Linked DNA regions of Homo sapiens. The protein of the gene in region 2 purifies or fractionates together with the protein of the main gene of each other region. This does not show direct contact. Each region holds a gene or a part of one and is shown on either strand. Other genes may lie near its edges.

The links. Proteins that work in one complex are often made in the same cells at the same time.
Region 1: the proteins of CPQ (region 2) and DAAM1 purify together in Homo sapiens (affinity purification with mass spectrometry; one large-scale study listed by BioGRID and IntAct). This does not show direct contact.

The regions. Positions count from the first base shown.
Region 1 is NC_000014.9:59,369,285-59,371,903, forward strand, and holds the end of DAAM1 (disheveled-associated activator of morphogenesis 1), read left to right. Parts: 3' UTR 1-2,119; downstream 2,120-2,619. UniProt on the Homo sapiens protein: Binds to disheveled (Dvl) and Rho, and mediates Wnt-induced Dvl-Rho complex formation. May play a role as a scaffolding protein to recruit Rho-GDP and Rho-GEF, thereby enhancing Rho-GTP formation. Can direct nucleation and elongation of new actin filaments.
Region 2 is NC_000008.11:96,643,960-96,648,041, reverse strand, and holds the start of CPQ (carboxypeptidase Q preproprotein), read right to left. Parts: upstream 2,801-4,082; 5' UTR 2,640-2,800; intron 1-2,639. UniProt on the Homo sapiens protein: Carboxypeptidase that may play an important role in the hydrolysis of circulating peptides. Catalyzes the hydrolysis of dipeptides with unsubstituted terminals into amino acids.

The DNA.
Region 1 (2,619 bases), on a different chromosome or scaffold from region 2:
GCTTGATATCCTTTAAAATTATTTTCATTGATGGAACTGGAGTTGTTGGAAAAACATAGATTTAAAATGATTTTTGATAGCTGACATTGTGATGTTGATGTATCACATCAGTAATAGGACCAGCTTTGAATTTCTGACATTGGTGTGGGGATACAGTCTGTAAATGTTTATTGAGAACATCTTGCACACAATTTGAATTATGTAGAATGTCAATCAAGTTTTTGTATATTTAAAAGTTGGACATCAATTTTTTCCCCTGATTTCATCAAGTTATCTCTGCCAAGTGCTCTTGATAATTTCTTCAGATTTTTGGAAAAAAACACTATATAAATGCAATCCATGCTTTTTTTAAAGAACAACATTGCCAGAGTATGCTTGTTCTAACAATATAGATATATAAACCTTAAAAATAATAAAATATCTCACCCAAGACTTAAAGGAAGAATTCTCTGAAGGGATAAAGATTACTAAAAAAAAAAAAAAAAAAAAAAAATTAATGGGGTGCCTTTTTGTTATAGTTTCTATTTTCTGTTTTGTAGGACAAGCTGCATTTTCTGTAAATATAGGTCTGGACTAAAGGATACATAAAGAATGCACAAAATGTCAACATCAGCAGAGATGCCCAGATCTATTTATCTCTAAGTATATTTGAAGTGATTGCTGTTTATATGTTGTCATTTTAAAATTGTGTGTCAGTAAAGCTACCTGTAAAATTTCAGTCCAAAAAAATAAAGCTCTCAGGGAGACATGAATAAAATCAATGAACATTAGAAAATAAAATATAGATGCTTACCATTAACCTACCAACTCTTAATATCCTTAAATTATGTGATATATAAAGAGGACTGTTACTTTTTTACTTTTTTTTTTTTTTTTTTTTTTTTTTGGCTTTGCTTTATTTATTTGTAGTTGGGGGCTAACGTTTTCTCTTTTCTTTCTATTGATCCTGTTGTGGTTGGGTTTCCTGTGGAGAGAGTAGTTTGTCCTGTTGCACTAGAACATTATTTACTCACTAAATTGAGTTTTTCAGTCAATTAACAAATATTTATTAAGTTCCTACTATGTACCAGGCATAGTAGGGCTACAATGGTAAGCAAGACAGAGTCCCTGCCCCCAAAGAGCTTATATTCTAATGGGGATATTAAGGGATGAATAGAATACCAATGTGTGCACTGTACAGGAATCATACTATTTAAAAATAATTTGTATAAACTATAATGCTTAGCACAGATGGCGAGTTATCTGTGCTATGTGAAAGCTGTGAAATAGTGCTCTAAGAGTTGTCAAGAGCTGTGGTTTTACATCTTTTCCTCATTGCAAATTTAGTGACTTTCTACACACTATATGGAAATAAATGACTAGCAAATAAAACAGTCATAAATACAAAGCAGAGGTTGCACTCCCCCAATCCCGAGTTAACCCAGGTCTGCAATAACACCATGTTAAAGGTGCAGATAGAGACTTGGCTCAAAAAGGCTTGGAGATGAGGAAGATTGGAATATAATGATGGTTTTGTCTGTTCCTTAACTAAAGTGCCTCTATGTATATTCTTTTCTATTTGTAGCAGGATAAATTTGGTCTGGCTCAGTTTTGGAACTGTATTTTGAAAATGGCTTTGTCTTACAGTTTAAGGAATAGACAGGTGGAGGGAAAGTCACATAAAGGAGCAAGTTTGTGTAGCTGTCCCTCTTGCCCCTTTTAATCATCCTCCTTTGATATGGCCATCCTGGTGGGCCTCCTTTGCCATTTCCATTTTTGGTTTCTTTCCCTGAAAACTGTGTGCAGGTAATTCCATGTGCCATTGTTGAAAAGAAAAAAAAAAAACAAAAAAAAAACCTACTTTTTAGATTGGTGCTGGTGTAAGTAGCCACTTTTCTCTCTTGGGTGTGTATTTTAAACTTTTTTTGTTTTTTTAAATTAATGCCAAAAAGAAAATGCATAATTTGTAAACTTAATTATATGTCTTATATCTTATTAGCTTAGTAGTTGGAACCACTTAGTCTTTAGGTGCAAGACTGTTGTTAGATAGTACTGAGAAAAAAAAAGTATGTGTTATGAGACTGTACATGTTTTTTTAAAAATAGCAATATGCAATAAAGAGATGAATTCATTGGGTGTACATATATGCTTTCTATGAATTATTAAAACAGTGTCATCAAACTGCTTTGCAGTTTCCACCATTGAATTTCAATTTTGCAAATTGTTCACTGAATCGGAAATATATACCTGTTTTTAAACTTGTACTTACTGGACCTAGAAGAATATAGTTTTCTATTATGGCAGCATTCAGTATGTTCAGGTTATCATATGCCACCTCTTTCTATACTTGGTTTATGTATGAGTTATACAATTTCTTGTTATAACTCATGTATGGTAGGGCTACTGGTGAAATTATTCAACTAGAGTAGAGAAAATAATCTCTAGTCTCTAGAATCAAAGCCTTTTTGTTTTGAGGCATGTTTTTCTTATTAAAAATTAACTTGATATGGGTCAGTATGGGAAATGGCACCCATACAGATCAAGAAATTTGTTTATCAGTATCCTCTGAAAGTTGAAGCTTTCCCTTTGTCCTACATCACATTTGCTGCCTAGCCACCCTTAGCTCAATTTAAGTTCACG
Region 2 (4,082 bases):
TGGATTACACAGATGTAGGCATTGTTCTTTGTCTATACTAGGGGTTGTTGGTCTTATAAAGAAAGAGGTTGGGAGGCAGTGCCTTACCAAGGGCACAAAGCTAGTCCAAGAAACAACACTGCTTAGCACTCATGGTTCAAAGCCCTTAAGTGCCATTCACTGATGGCAGCTGTCGATGTCACTCATTTTATATTCCCTAAATTGGTAAGTCTGAACACATTTAAAATTAAGATGCATGGGCACCTAGGTCAAAGTATCAGAGTCTCCTGGAATCTCAATGGAATTCAATAATTTTCAAAATGATAAAACAACCAACTCCCCTATAATTCAGTCTTCATCATTTCACCCTGTGCTCTCATTCTAAATTCATTTACCCAAATAACCCAGGGTTTGTATATATGCTTGAACACACACAGAGACCACATTCTTCAAAGTCACACAGTTTTTCCTGGCAGGATTGTCTTGTTTCTGGGAGAAACCCTGTTTCCATCTGCTTGAGTTTTGAGTCCTAACTCTCCCATTTTCCATGTACTGTTTCTAGTTAAGAAGATCAAATAGGACTTACCATAGTATCTAGCTCTTAGATATATAGTGATGATTAAATGGGGCAATATAAGTAAAAAGGTTAAATATAACAGTGCCTGGTGTATGGTCAGTGCCCCATAAATATCAGCTTTGTAACATTCCATGCCTGTATGACACATGACCTCATTGGGAAAACAGTGTGAGAAAGTTGGCCCTTTTCACCAAGCAACATGTGTATTCCACTTCTCCTTATAAACTTGAATTCACTGAAGTAGGTAACATTAATTTCATTTTACTTAACACATTTGGAACTTTGTGTTTGTTAAATGTAGCATGCAAAAATATTTAAATATGTATGTATAATGACTTTTGAAGTGCCTTTAAAAAATCTCCAAGGTCCTTCCAGCTCCAAAATGTGATCTATGATAACTAATCTCAAATGCATGCGAAGAAATAGTGATGCAGTTCCCCAGATATACTGGGAATATATGGCATTGTCAGACTGGGTTGCACTGGAAAAAAGTCAGACCCAGGACCAGGAGCCTGTGACAATGTAGAAGAAAATCTTACCCTCCTTTCTCCCCACCAGCCTAGGGTTTATTACACTTATCTTGAGCTCCCAGGCTTTCTTGTTGCAGATGTGGAGAAGAAAGGAAATGAGCTGTAAACAGCAAAGAAGAGAGCAGAGACAAAATGCTATGGGAGGTGAAGTAAGCAGAACTCCATGAAATCATCTGTAATTTCACCTTCTAACCCTGATACAAAAGAATCCCAGAGGTTTAACTCAGGCAGGGTTCCTAGCTAAACATCTTCATTTTGGAGATTAAGAAATTAAAACCTAAAGAGATCAAGTGGCAAGTCCAAGGTCATCCAGCTCTTCTGGAACCTGGACCTGGCAAGTAAGAACGGCTGCAGTGACCAACTGTATTAAAGCTATGTGCTAAGCCTATTTGTTTACAAACAGATAAGCGTCTTTCTGGGCCTTATGTAGCCTTCTTCAGTCACCTGCAAATCAGCCAGCACCTGTCTCAGGAAAACAGACAAGATTCTTAACAACTCTGAATTCAAAAGAAAAGCCTGGTTTTACAAACAAGTCAGAGTCATATGGTTCTGCCTTCAGAGTCACCCTTATCTTTAAGAAATACATGAAATAATATTATAGTGACAATGATTCTTTAAACGTCCAAAGTAGAAGTGAACAAAACACAAGCAAGAAAAAACCTAGGCATATTTTGTTTTAAGCAAACACATATAGCCAAGTCCAACAAAAATGGAAATACCAGGGGGCGTTTCCAGAGACCATTTGAACAGCATAGAACTCTTTTTAAGTGGTCCCAATCAGAATGCCTCCATTTGCAAAAGTGCGACATTCACACAACTTTTTGGAAAGCTATCAAAAAACAGGAGTTGTAAGCCTGCGTCTCCACTGCTTCCACTTCATACATCTTTATTTTCACTCATGCACTGATTGATTCAGCTGTATCTCGTATGCACTCATTTATTCACTTACTCATTTGTTAATTCACTCAGTTCTACGGCATAGGTACTCATTCAATTACTTATTGAGTAGCTCTGAGTCCTAAGTCAGATGGGACTTTGCCCTCATGGAACTTCGATTCTAGGAGAGTCCAGTAGCAGAAACTAGACGCATCAAAAGCGAAAGTACACGGTAAAATGCGAAAGGAACCCCAAAAGAACTGCATAAGGCATATTGGAGGCTCAGGGGGACCAGGATTGTTTGCAGATGGGGGATGAAGGGGGCGGCTTGGGGCTGAGCCCTGGAGCTGAGGGGAAGTGAAACCGTGTTGGGAAGGACGGCTGAGGGCCGTGCTCGCTGCTGTCCCGCAGCACCCTCCACCACCCCCACGTCACAGCTTCCCCATTTCTAGGCTCGGTGACTCCACTGTCACCGAAGGGGCAGCCACAGGCTCCCAACCCGCCGCTCCCCAGCCAGGTCCTCCCGTCACGCCCCCGAATGAGCGATGCTGGAAGTCCGTCCCCCTCTGCCCCCGCCCCTGGCCTGCTCCAGCCTCAGCCCGCCCGACCCCCGCGGGTAGGAGCCAAGGCCTCGGCCCAGCCGCCCGCGGGCACTGCCAGTTCGGCTGCAAACACACCTGATAGGGCGGCTCTGACGGCGGCGACGGAGGCGGCTCCCAGGACTAAGCTCGCGGCCTAGCCTTACGGTGGCGGCGGCCACACCCCTGACTGGGCTGGGGCCCTCCGCGCCGCCCCGTGACTGCAGCCCTGCTTGCCGGCCAGGCCGCGGGGCCGAGAGGCGGGGCAAAGACCTGACTCGGGAAGCCGGGGCGGGCGCCGGGTTCGGGCTGGGGGCCACCTCCGGAACGCCTGGGGGGTTCTCACTCGCCCTCCAAGGGCGACCTCAGGGCCACAGATCGGCCGGAAGGCTTCTCAGCTTCTGGGCTGTGGCTCCTGTTAGAAAATTGAGTGTCGCCCTGGGTCCCGAGCCCCTAGGCCTGACTCCTTCGTGCAGGGGCGTCGCCTTCAGACTGGGTGGTGCGCAGGCCAGGGCCGCGTGCTTTTCAGAAGCGCAGCCTCAGGCGAGGCGGGCGGCAGGGGCCTGAGAAGGCTCATGGCTTGGCAGAAGGGTCCTGTGCTTCAGTGGGTGCCCGTGCAGGTGGAGAAGGACGGGGCTGCGAAGCTGAAAGGAAAACGTGAAAGGTTTTTGTGTGTCTCTGAGCCTGAGTAAAGGCCATGCTTTCTGAGCTGTCAAACGCCTCCCAAAGGGAAGAGATTATTAAACCGTTTTCCCACCCTGCCAGGTGTAGGATTGTTAGGCGGTGATGATGGAAGGCAGAGATGACCCGAACTGAGAGATCAGAAAAAGCGTTTTCTCTTTCGTTTGTGCCTGAATTATATGAGGGTGCCCAAGAAGAAAGGAGACTCATCTGATTACCCGGTGTGGCTTATCTCAACAAGTCACACGCATTCTGGTCACAGAGTATGTGCTCAGTGTTTTCAATGCTTTATGTTTTGATAAGTGCAAATTCCTTTGTTTAACGAAACTCTTATCAAATACAAACAGTTATCTTTGTGAAACACTGAGCAGTTCCAGTCTCTCCTCTTAACTAAAAAAACCAAACAGAACTTTTAATTAGAAAAGAAAAGAAAGAATAAGCACATGCCTACTGGGAAAAAAAAAATACCATAAAATGTGCAAAGTCCACTCACCTTCGGTTAACAGTCCCTCTAAACCTTACTAGTCCTGTTGCCCACTGAAACAAGTGTGAACTCTGAGGCATTGGAGGGTCCACATAAACATGGCCCTGGCCCACCTTTCCCGAATCATCTCTCGGATGCCATATCTAACCCCACTGAATTACTTTTTTCTCAAACTATCAAGGGTAAAAGACAAGTTTTTATTATTTCCAATCTGACATGGACCATTATTTCTGTAAAATACAAATCAAAACCTGCTAGCAAATAAGAAAAGAGACAAAAACTACAAGCCCAGTTTTTATTACAAGTGTACAATGAGTATGCCAAAAAGTATAAAATTAGTTTTTCAATTATTGGTTGTTGTTGTTGTTTTTATTTCT